Regions from separate parts of the Homo sapiens genome. Here region 2 is linked to region 1. Evidence: fine-mapped expression QTL. A gene starts in region 1. The other region holds a variant in brackets. All regions are shown on one strand. Distances are from middle to middle.

Evidence for each region. PIP is the estimated chance that this variant, and not a neighbour inherited with it, causes the effect.
Region 2: its variant is fine-mapped to the expression of PLA2G6 in whole blood (TOPMed, PIP above 0.99).

What each region holds. Positions count from the first base shown.
Region 1 is chr22:38,178,729-38,184,099 of GRCh38, forward strand. It overlaps PLA2G6 (phospholipase A2 group VI), which reads right to left and starts at 3,102. Exons shown (of 17, transcript NM_003560.4): 1 at 2,936-3,102. RefSeq lists enhancers at 1,505-1,674, 1,955-2,024, 2,655-3,104, 3,054-3,348, 3,265-3,374.
Region 2 is chr22:38,124,796-38,130,166 of GRCh38, forward strand. PLA2G6 (phospholipase A2 group VI) reads right to left here. Exons shown (of 17, transcript NM_003560.4): 8 at 4,659-4,767; 9 at 3,474-3,635; 10 at 1,576-1,654. Among named protein-coding and RNA genes, the nearest start is that of BAIAP2L2, 17 kb to the left of the region's middle. The variant C/T (reference allele first, on the strand shown) is at 1,977.

The sequences.
Region 1 (5,371 bases):
GGTGGCGTGCACCTGTAATTCCAGCTTCCTGGGAGACTGAGGTGGGAGAATCACTCAAACCCAGGAGGCGGAGGCTGCAGTGAGCTGAGATCGCACCACTGCGCTCCAGCCTGGGCAACAGAGTGAGACCCTGTCTCAAAACCAAAACAACCAACCAACCAAAAAAAACCCCACAAAATCCCTGACATCCTGGAACTTATATTTTAGACAGAGCTACTAATAATAAAGAAGATAAACAGGTAAATATTTACAAAGGTTTTAGATGACAATTAACTACTGAGGAGAAAAACCAGAGAATGGGGATAGGAAGTGCTGAGGTGGAGAGTGAAATTTTAGATTGGGTGAGGAGAGAAGTCTTCACCAAGAAATTGATCTTAAATAAATACCTGATGGAGAGAGATGAAAGTCATATGAATAGCTAGGCAAAGAGAGCGTGTGCAAAGGCCATGGGGCTGGAACATGTTTAGCGAGTTCCAGGAAAAGCAAGGAAGCCAGTGACATCAGAGAGGCAACAGGGGGCCAGGCATGTGCCATGAGAGGAGAGGCCACTGCAAAGAAACAACATTTTAACAAGATCACTCTGGCTGGGTGTGGGGTAAGAAACAGAGAGGCATCATAGATAATCTCACAGCTTTGACCTGAGCAACTGAATGAACAATACTCCTATGTCCTAAGATGAGAAAGAGAGTGGGAGGGACATGTTTTGGTGAAGAGTGGGGTCAGGGATGGAGGGCAGAACTAACAGGAGCTCAATTCTAAACTCTTAAGTTTGAGGCCTGGCGCGGTGGCTCACACCTGTAATCCCACCACTTTGGGAGGCCAAGGCAGGTGGATCACTTGAGATCAGGAGTTCGAGACCAGCCTGGCCAACACGGTGAAACCCCGCCTCTACAAAAATACAAAAATTAGTTGGGCATGATGGCGCATGCTTGTAATCCCAGCTACTTGGGAGGCTGAGGCAGGAGAATCAGGAGGTGGAGGTTGCAGTGAGCCGAGATCGTGCCATTGCATTCCAGCCTGGGTGACAGAGTGAGACTCTGTCTCAAAAAATAAATAAATCAATAAATAAATACTTCAAGTTTGAAAAGCCTAAGTTTGAGGTGCTGAGTAAGCAACTAGATTTGAGTATGTCATTCCAGGGAAAGGTCTGGACTGGACTGGGGATATAAATTTGTGGGCTGACAGAATAGAGACGGCACTTAAAGAAATAAGACTGGATGAGATCACCATCCGAAAACGAGAAGAGGCATTTAAGACATGACCCTATCAAAATCCACTGTGAAAGACACAGAACATATTCTCCCAGGGAGCCACCCTCTACAAAGTGAAGTTTGTAACACACTCTTCACTACGGCCCCTTACTCCTTGCCTACCTACTTCCCCCAGCACACACACCCAATAGATGTCTGCAGACACACACACACACACACACACACACACACACACACACACACAGAGTATTTAAATTTCTCCTTTCTGTATCTCTTAGTGATGTCATTCTGCTGAGTAAGAGGGAAACTCCCTTTTGGGGAGTCTCTCATGTAACAAGAAAGTAATCCACGGAAGGAACAAGAAGTGTCCTAAACAGTAGCAAACCTTACACATCAGGACAATCACACAGGCTCTGGTGTCAGATTCCAGCTTCAACCTCATCGGTGTGACCTCAAGCAACTCATGCGCCCTCTTTTTCTCATGTGAAGTGAGAATATCATTGGCCACACCAAGGGTAGCCTAGAACATCAGACAGTCCGTAAATATTTGTTAGATAAACGATGACTGAATGAATGGTGAAGAGAACATATACAGAAGAGCCTGACTCACAAGAGGTGATGAACAAACACTGCCAAATGATACACTGAAAGACAAGGGACCTCCTGCTCATCCTTCTCTCCTTGTCTTCTCATTCTAGCCCTTTCCCTTTCCACTCCTTTCAATTCTGCCTATGACCCAACAGTAAAATCATGTATTTGTACAGGGCCATACTGGTTATAAAGCTTTACCTTCTACATTTTCTCATTCAAATTTTGAACCTCATGGCAGACTTACGAGGGCAGGAGGTACAGTTCCCCTGTCACAGATGAGGAAACTGAGACTTGGACAGAAAACAGGTTCCAAACTCCAGGCAGAAACTCTAACAAAAACAATGCATTCAAAAACAATGCATTCAGCCCAAGGGTGCAGCCTCAACGTTGCCAAACCGAACCTGCCTGACATCCTGTTGGGCGGGTAAGAGGCAGGTGAGGGAAAGACCCAGAAGCTAGGGGGAGGTATTCGTTGGGGTCATGTGGGTAGCCCATTAAAAATACGGCCACAGGTCCCCTTGCCCTGTGCCCTCCCTGTCCCACACCCACAGGCTTGCCCCGACCCAGTCCCATGATCACCCTGGTCACATGCTCCCTGTCACCAGCTTCCAAGTCATCTGTGGGAGCAGGAGGTGGACACAGGATTAGGGGTGGGAGACTCTGGGGTGGCCAGGCTGAGGGGAAGGAGGGAGCATGTCGGGGGCAGGTCTGGAGGCACGCGAGAGAGGAAAGGCAAGGAAAAAAAGCAGGGAGGAAAGGCAGGAGAAGCAGGGAGTGAGAAATGAGTAGAGGCACCACGAAAGGTGGAGACGGACGTGAAGTGGGGAATCAAGTGAGCACTTAGAGGAGCACAGGAAGGAAAATTAGGACGGCCAATGGGGCCTAAAGAGGCACTGAGGGTCGGGGAAAGAGAAGAGATGGATTGACTCGGGAAGTTAGGGATACTGAGGGAGACACACGGAGGAGACTGGGGTTCAGGGGAGAAACTCAGGGTCGAAGCTGGGGTCCCTGGGGTCCACAAGTTCGAGATGAGACACGGGCGGTCTCGGGATGGGAATTGGGGACGCAGGGGGATGAAAAGATGGAAGGTGGGGGCACTCAGGGAGTCACATAAGGGTTAATGGAGGACATGCCTCAGAATCGGAGACACGAGGAATATCCAAAGGAGGGTCCGGCGGAGACTTGGGAGTCCGGAGCGCCGAGGAAGTTGGGGAACGGACCCCCAGGCCCCGCCCACCCGCGAGGTCACTCACCTCGGCTTACTCAGCACTTCTACTTCCTCCTACTTCCGCAAACAAACGGGCCTCGGGCCACGTGATGGCCTGACCACCGCTCTCCGCCAATCACTGGTGGCCCTGTCCCAGGCCTCCTCTAGGCTCCGCCCCCGCGCCCGAGGACGGCGGGAGGCGGGGTCCGCCATTTTTTTTAACTGCCCAATGGAAGGGGCTCCCTTAGCCAGGAGGACGAGCTTTCGGCGGGAGCCAATCCTCGGCGGCGAGGCGCGGCCATGTTTGTGCGGGGCAGAAGGTGCCCGGCTTCTTGGCAGTCCTGTTGATGAGGGCCAGGAGTCCTACCCTAGTCCGCCTTCCGCCTCCTAAAGCGACCAGAGCCTGGAGTCTGAAGTTACTGTTAATGATTGCTCGTAAAGATAAAAATAAAGGCAACAGAGGCATAGGGCATAACAAGGAGGAACCTGTTTTGATTTTTGCCAGGTAGCCTCAAGCCAGGGTTGCCAGATGTAGCATATAAAAAATACGGGATGTTAAGTTACATTTGAATTTCAGCTAAACAGCCAATACATTTTTTTCCGATAGAACAGAAATTGATTATAGCTTTTTTATTTTTCACAACTAAGGCCAAATTCCCTAGGGGAATTACCACATGTCCTTTTTTTTTTTTTTTTTGAGACAAGTCTCGCTCTGTCGACCATGCTGGAGTGCAGTGGCACGATCTCGCTCACTGCAACCTCCGCCTCCCGGATTCAAGCGATTCTCCTGCGTCAGCCTCCCGCGTAGCTGAGATTGCAGGCGCCCGCCACTACGCCCAGCTAATTTTTTGTATTTTTAGTAGAGACGGGGTTTCACCATGTTGGCCAGGCTGGTCTCGAACTCCTGACCTCAAGTGATCTGCCCGCCTCAGCCTCCCGAAGTGCTGGGATTACAGGCGTGAGCCACCACGCCCGGCTCCGAAATTTTTAACATAAGTATAATATACTAAGTTTAGTATTGTGTTAAAAATGTGTGCATTGTTGTCTGGCAACACACCCTGAGCCAGTCTCAGGAAATACCTTAGCACTTTCAGTAGGAACTTGGGCAAATGATCTCTGTGAACCTCAGACCCATCATCCAGGAAGTGGGCACAGTAATACAAGATTGTTGTAATATCTAGAAGTAAATTGGTCCCCATTCGTGCACATAGTGGGATTTCAATAAATGGCAGTTGTTAGGGTTAATAATGCCGATAATGAGGTATTTTGCAGAGAAGCCAGGAGACTAGACTTTAGTCACACATCTGCTTCGGACTGAGCAGGTCATGTCCTCTCTTCAGCCCACTGGCTTGGTTGGACCTTTTCTTTCCCTAATAATCACCCAACCCTAGGTCTAGATGAATCTGCCAGACTGCTCTCCATTTACGTGGGAAGTATAGTTGCGGGTGTCATTCTTGTGAAAAGAAGCGTGTAGGCCGGGTGCGGTGGCTCACGCCTATAATCCCAGCAGTTTGGGAGGCTGAGGCGGGTGGATCACTTGAGGTCAGGAGTTTGAGACCAGCCTGACCAACATGGTGAAACCCCATCTCTACTAAAAATACAAATAATTAGCTGGGTGTGCTGGCCATAGTCTGTAGTCCCAGCTGCTCAGGAGGCTGAGGCAGGAGAATTGCTTGAACCCAGGAGGCAGAGGTTGCAGTGAGCCAAGATCATGCCACTGTACTCCAGCCTGGGTGACAGAGCCAGACTCTGTCTCAAAAAAAAAAAAAGTGTGTTTCCTCCTTAGTCCGTCTAAAGATATTAGTGCCTAGACAGGGCAGCCAATGCAACTTGCGCAAGGTTTAGTTAAGAATCTTCACAGGTTAATGAAATTAACCATCTTAACTAATATCTGTACAGAGCTTTACCAGTTACAAAGTGACTTCACTTCCATCATATCCTCGTGTCCCCATTTTACAGGTGAGGAAATTGTTCCTTAAAGTAAGATTTAAAATTTGCTTAAGAGTTTCAGCTTGACTGCGCACAGTGGCTCACGCCTGTAATCCCAACACTTTGGGAGGCCGAGGTGGGCAGATCACTTGAGCTCAGGAGTTCAAGACCAGCTTGTGCAACATGGAGAAACCTCGTCTTTAAAAAAAATACAAAAATTATCCAGGTGTGGTCTTGCATGCCTTTGGTCCCAGCTACTGTGCAGGGGAGGCCGGGGGGTCAAGGATGCAGTGAGCCAAGATCGCCTGCACTCCAGCCTGGGTGACAGAGCGAGACCATGTCTCAAAAAAAAAAAAAAAAAAGTTTCAGCTTGAAGTGGAGAGAAAAGGATAAAGACTCAGAATTCTCAATGAAAATATCTTGCCTCCACACC
Region 2 (5,371 bases), 54 kb before region 1:
CTTTTCCTGGACCAGGTACCCAGCCCCACAGCAAGCCTAGAGGTGGCAGGGGAGAGACTACACTGTTGCTGGAGGCCAAAGCAAACTCCCGAAGATGCGGGGCTGGCGACAGAGATCAACCCAGAGGGCGCAGGGCTCTGTAGCTTGGAAGGCCCAAGTGGGGAGCTACCGAGGGGTCTCCTGACTCTTGCCTCAGCCCCGCTCCAGGCAGGGTTCTGAGGCTCCAGAATCTGGGGAATCTGCTTTTCCTCCCTTGGGAAATGTGGGTCCCCCCTTCAGGTGCAGCTGCCTCACCTCAGCCCCTGCACAGGTGTGTGTATGTACATGCATGTGTGTACATGTGTGTGCATGTGTGTGGGTGTCCATGTGCATGCATGCATGTGTATGTGTGCGCATGTGTATGTGTGTGCATGCACGTGTGTTTGCATGTGTGCATGTGTGTGCGTGTCCATGTGTTTGCATGTGGGCAACACATGCATGTGGGCAACCCGCAGGCATGTGCATGTGGGTGTGTGTGCGTGCATGTGTGCGTGTGTGTGTGCGTGTGCCCGCGTGCAAGAGCATGCAGGGGGCACAGGGGAGGGAATGCTGATGGGGCAGGGGAACCTCCAGGGCACACAACAGGGTAGCATGGAAGTGAGTGCGAAGTGAGAGGACCCACAGAGCTGCACGATCACTGCCTGGCCCTGGGAGTGGAGCTGCCTCTGATTCTGAGAAGAGAGCTTTCCCTGCAGAGGGCTGGCACTAGGTATAGAGTCCACAGAGAACCCAGAGAGAGCCTGCGGTAGCACAAAGGACGTGGGTTCGGAAGACCCGGCTGTGAGTTGCCACCCTGACACTCACTCCGTGTGACCTTGAGCAAGTCACTTCACCTCTCAGGGGCTCAGGTTCTGCATCTGTAAAACAAGGTTACAAATTCCTCCCTGGGAAGGCTATTAGGAACATGAGAGACTAATAAAGAATAAATGAATCAACTGCAGCAATCAAGGGAGGTGGCGACAGCACAGTGGCTGGAAACGCATTTGTCCTGGTACCTTGCCGTGCCAGCTGGCACTGAGTTCAAGCACCCGGGATTATGCCTGAAGGGCAAGGCCTGGGCGTCTTCTCTTTGCATCCTGTCACCCAGGCCCGCCTCTTACAATGGGACTAGGTATACAGCAGGTGCTGGGGAAGGCAGCCCACGCCACTATTCTGCAGTGGGAGGTGGTTAAGGAAGCCAGTAGGAGCAGTGGGAAGCAGCTGCTGAGATCTCCCCAGGGGGGACCCAGGCATCTCCCCCTCTTCTAGCCATAAGGAGATCAGGGAGGGAGGCCAGAACACTGCGCCAGCCCCACCAAGTCCAAGAAGCCTGGCACCCTGGGCTGGTCTCCAGAGCCTGCACCGCCCAGCATTAATGAACGAGCGACACAGGCTCTCCATGTTCTGTCTCTGCTGAGAACTATAAGACTAGGAGCAGAGCCACTTCGCCGGCTGTGAGGGTGCAGAGAGTAAAGCCCTGAGCCCACAACAGGGGGTGGGTGAGGGGCAGGAAAGCGCACACGTTCCCCGCTCTGCCCCCGATCTCGATCCACTTACGTCCGCTTCTCGTCCCTCATGGAGCCCAGGATGAACGCTGGCTTCCGGGCCCGTGAGATGTGCATGAGATCCTGTAGTTCTGTGAGGCACAGAGCAGGGCATGCTGTGGTCAGGTGGGTCCCCAAGCCCTGCTACCCCAGAGGTCCCTAGATCAAACCTGGGCTGTGCCTCGCCCACGGCCACGCCCTCATCCCCCCACTCCCCCTGTCATCTGTCCCTTCCCCACAGGAAGGACTCTGTCCCAGGAGAAAGCTGAGCCACAGGCCACAGGAGAGAAATGGGCTGGAGTGGAAAGGGGGGCCCACTGCTCTGGGAAGGGCTCCCCACCCTGCCCAGCCAGCTCCCAGGTTCCCCTCAATCTCTTCCTCTTGAAACCCCAAGGCATGAATACCCTTGCGTGT[C/T]CTCTTCAGACAAAGTGCTTCTTCTTGCATCGGAGCCGATGCTGCAATAACCACCTGGGGCCTAAGAATTCTTATTCCCTATTGACAGGTGAGGCTCTAAGAGGGTCCATAATTCACCCAAGGTCATTTAGTCAAAAGGCTGAGTCAGGACGTTCCTCGGGGTTTAAGTCCATGGATGAAAGGAGACATCCCTCGTCCTGATCCCAGGTCTGGAAATCCCAGTGGCCTCCGGGATCAGGCCCACCATCCACTCTGTCCATGTCTTCCTTTGTGTCCAAGGCCTGCCTGACGTCCACCCAACTGACTAGCTGCCCCTCCTGACAAGCAGCCCAGTCCCCAGGTGCCTGGTGCAGCAGCCCGCGTGACCCCAACTCTGACAGCCCCCCACCACTGTGCAGAGTCTAGAAGCAGCAAAGCAGAACCGAGGGCTGCGAAGCGGTGTCTCCCCCTCCCCAGGGCACACGGCTCCACAGTGAACAAGGGAAGCAGAAGAGTGGCTGAGAGAGGCCGGGGACAGGGTGCAGGGGAGGGGGCGTGTGGTGTGTGCGCAGCTAAGAAGGACGGATTAGGGAGTGAGAGCTAGAGCTAATGCCGCATGGCTAGGCTCGGTGGCCTCTCCAGGCCCAGGGCGTTACCCATCTGACGCCGCACCCCAGGCCCACCATCCGGCCTGGCTTGGGTGACTGCCTGCAAAATTGAGAGATAAAGATGGGAGGTGGAGGGGGAGTTCCTGGGAGGGGAGAGAGAGGTGGAGCCAGGACTAGAAGCCACAGTCACGGTGCCTCTCCAGAGTTCCAGGCTTGGTCGGGCTACCCTGGCTGAAGGTGCTGCCGCCTCCACAGTGAAGTCTGGCTCACCAAGGACTGGCTCCTGGCTGCCCTCTGTTCAGGGGACCCCGCTCCCAAACAATGGAGGTCCCTGAGTGGGCCAGCCCACAGAAAGTCCAGAGAAGGGTCCTGTCTAGTCTGGGGATGTCTCCCTGGGCACCAAGGAATGCACCGGGGCAGATGCTGGCTGCCTGGCCACATTCAACGTCTGAAAGTCACCACGGGGCCAGGAAGGGGGCACACAGGTCTCAGGCCCAACCGAGATTCAAACAGTGTGATAGAGGTGAAGCCAGAGGGACAGGTGAAGCCAGAGGGCCCGGGCCCCCAGTCCCCCGACAGCACTCCTCACTGCCCACCCTGAACGCCCTGGGGACAGGAGGGCAGTAACAGCAGCCACCTCATGGGTGCCACTGGAAATGCCCAGGCCTGAGACTGTGTGCAGGACACATCCTCTCAGGGGCAACGGAGCATGGGACATCAGCCAGGGACACCCTAGGCCTCTGGGATCTGTGGGTTGCTGGCTGCCTAGAGGCTGACAACTCCGGCCCCATCCTCCCCGGCTTCCTTTAGTGACTTCCGTCCTAGGGATCCTGTTGCTTTGGTGGGGCCTGCTGTGATCCAGGGGCCTGGGAACCAGCTGGAGAAGAGGGAGTCGGGAGGCGAGGCCTACCTAGGTTGTTTAGGCTGATCGGTGGGGGCTGAGCTCTTTCCAGGGAGAAGGGATGATGTGGCGCTGCAGAGCCCTGCTCCGCGGGGACCCCGTGGATGGGTGGGAAGCAGTATTCGGCCCCCACGGTTCTCAGCAGAGTCAAGATCGCCTTCCTGGTGACAACTTGTCATGGTTTGGGGAAGGGGAGATGGCACAGGATCAGAAATGATGTCAACATGCAAAGGAGAGGCCCCTCCTTTCCACACTCCGTCCCCTGTCCCAGCTCCCAGGCCCTGGGCACGTGGGCTGCTCCAGAGGCCTCAGCCCACCCTGACAGGGAGTGCTGCCCCCAGGCTGGTACATCCCAAGCAGCTTCCTAAGGCCAGGGAAGGAGGATATGGGAGGAGGAGGTCAGTGTCACCCTGCCCGATGCCTGTGGGAACCCCTTCTTTCCTTCTACTCCAGCCAAGAAAGCAGGAATCCCATGGCCACATTCAGTGATTCTCAAAAATGCTAAGTGATAGTTCAGGGTTCCAAAGGGACTAATGAGCCAGCCAGGGGGCACCTACTCCATTTGATGGATGGGATTGCTGAAAAGGAGGTCATAGATGCGGTGCATGCAGACACACACGTGTGCACTGGCACACACACACTGCTGCCATCAGGTACCTGCCCACAGTGACCCCCACAGCTGCTGAAACCCTCCAGAGCGGGCTCCAGGCCTCTGGTGAGGAGGATCTGCTCTGTCCAGCTCTGAAGCTAAGGCTCACTGTGCGAGCGTGCAGCACATGGCCATGCACTCTGCCCACACAGGCATGCCCAGAGCTCGTGCAGTGTAGTGCATGCACCCTTGGTCATTCTAGCCAGTGGTTCCATCAGTGAATTCCCCAACGGTGGGGAAAGAAGGCTGCTGCTGGCTCTCCTGTCCCCACCCCTGCTGGGAATCTTAGCTCCCTGAGGTGGGGGGCGCTGCACGGGAGAGGATGCTGGTATAGCAAGCCCCGTGGTGGGCCTGCATCTACTGCTCAGGGCCCTTGTGCTTGGGTAAGGAAGCCCCCTCTCTGAGTACGAGGTGCTCCTGGCAGCTCTGAGCAGGGCGGGTCAGCACAGGATGCTGGCACCTGATGCCTGGGACTTCCCTCCTCCTCGGTCCCTGTATCCACCCAACCCTCACCCCACTCCAGCCCCAGAGTGCAGAGCACATACGTCTGCCGATTTTGGAGGCTAGGAATGTAGGAGTCTCCCCAAAGTCATTCGGGGTGTCCACTTCTGCTCCGAACACGATGAGGGCCTTGATCATCTCCACGTTGTCTTTCTGTTGGAGATGGAGAGAGGATAAGACGTGCAACTGCCGGGGAAGTGAAGAACAAAGGGGCCCCTGGCTGCCAGCCCCAACCTGTCAACTCACCCAGCGGGCCTCTCCTCAGCACGGGGAGACACTGGAACCCTCCTCACCCCCACCCAAGTCAATCTGGTAGTCCAAAGTCTGCCATTTGATGGCTGGGGACCTGACAAACAGGCTTAAAAGCACCCACAGGGGAGGGTGTAAGAACCCAGGCAGAAACTAGAAGTGACTCGCCCCTGCTCTGCCAGCTCCGCCTCCAAAGATGCAGTGCATCTGTGACCCCGACCCAGGAGCCATGGGGACACAGTAGGTCAGCTGCTGATGGCTTTCAGGAGTAGCAAGGAGAGGGTGGGTGAGGGCAGGGAAGGCCATCTTGCCCACCCAGTCCAGGGTGTCATCCCTGAGGGGTAACCGAACACACGTGCCCCTAATGGCAGCCTTCGGGGGAGTGTCCCCACGAAGAACGTCACACATTTCCACACCTGGAGGCCGGGCAGGGGCGCAGAGCATGGCATGGTTTCAGAGGACACACTGGCCACCTGGAACTGTGGGCTCTGGCCTTGTCACCTTCCTC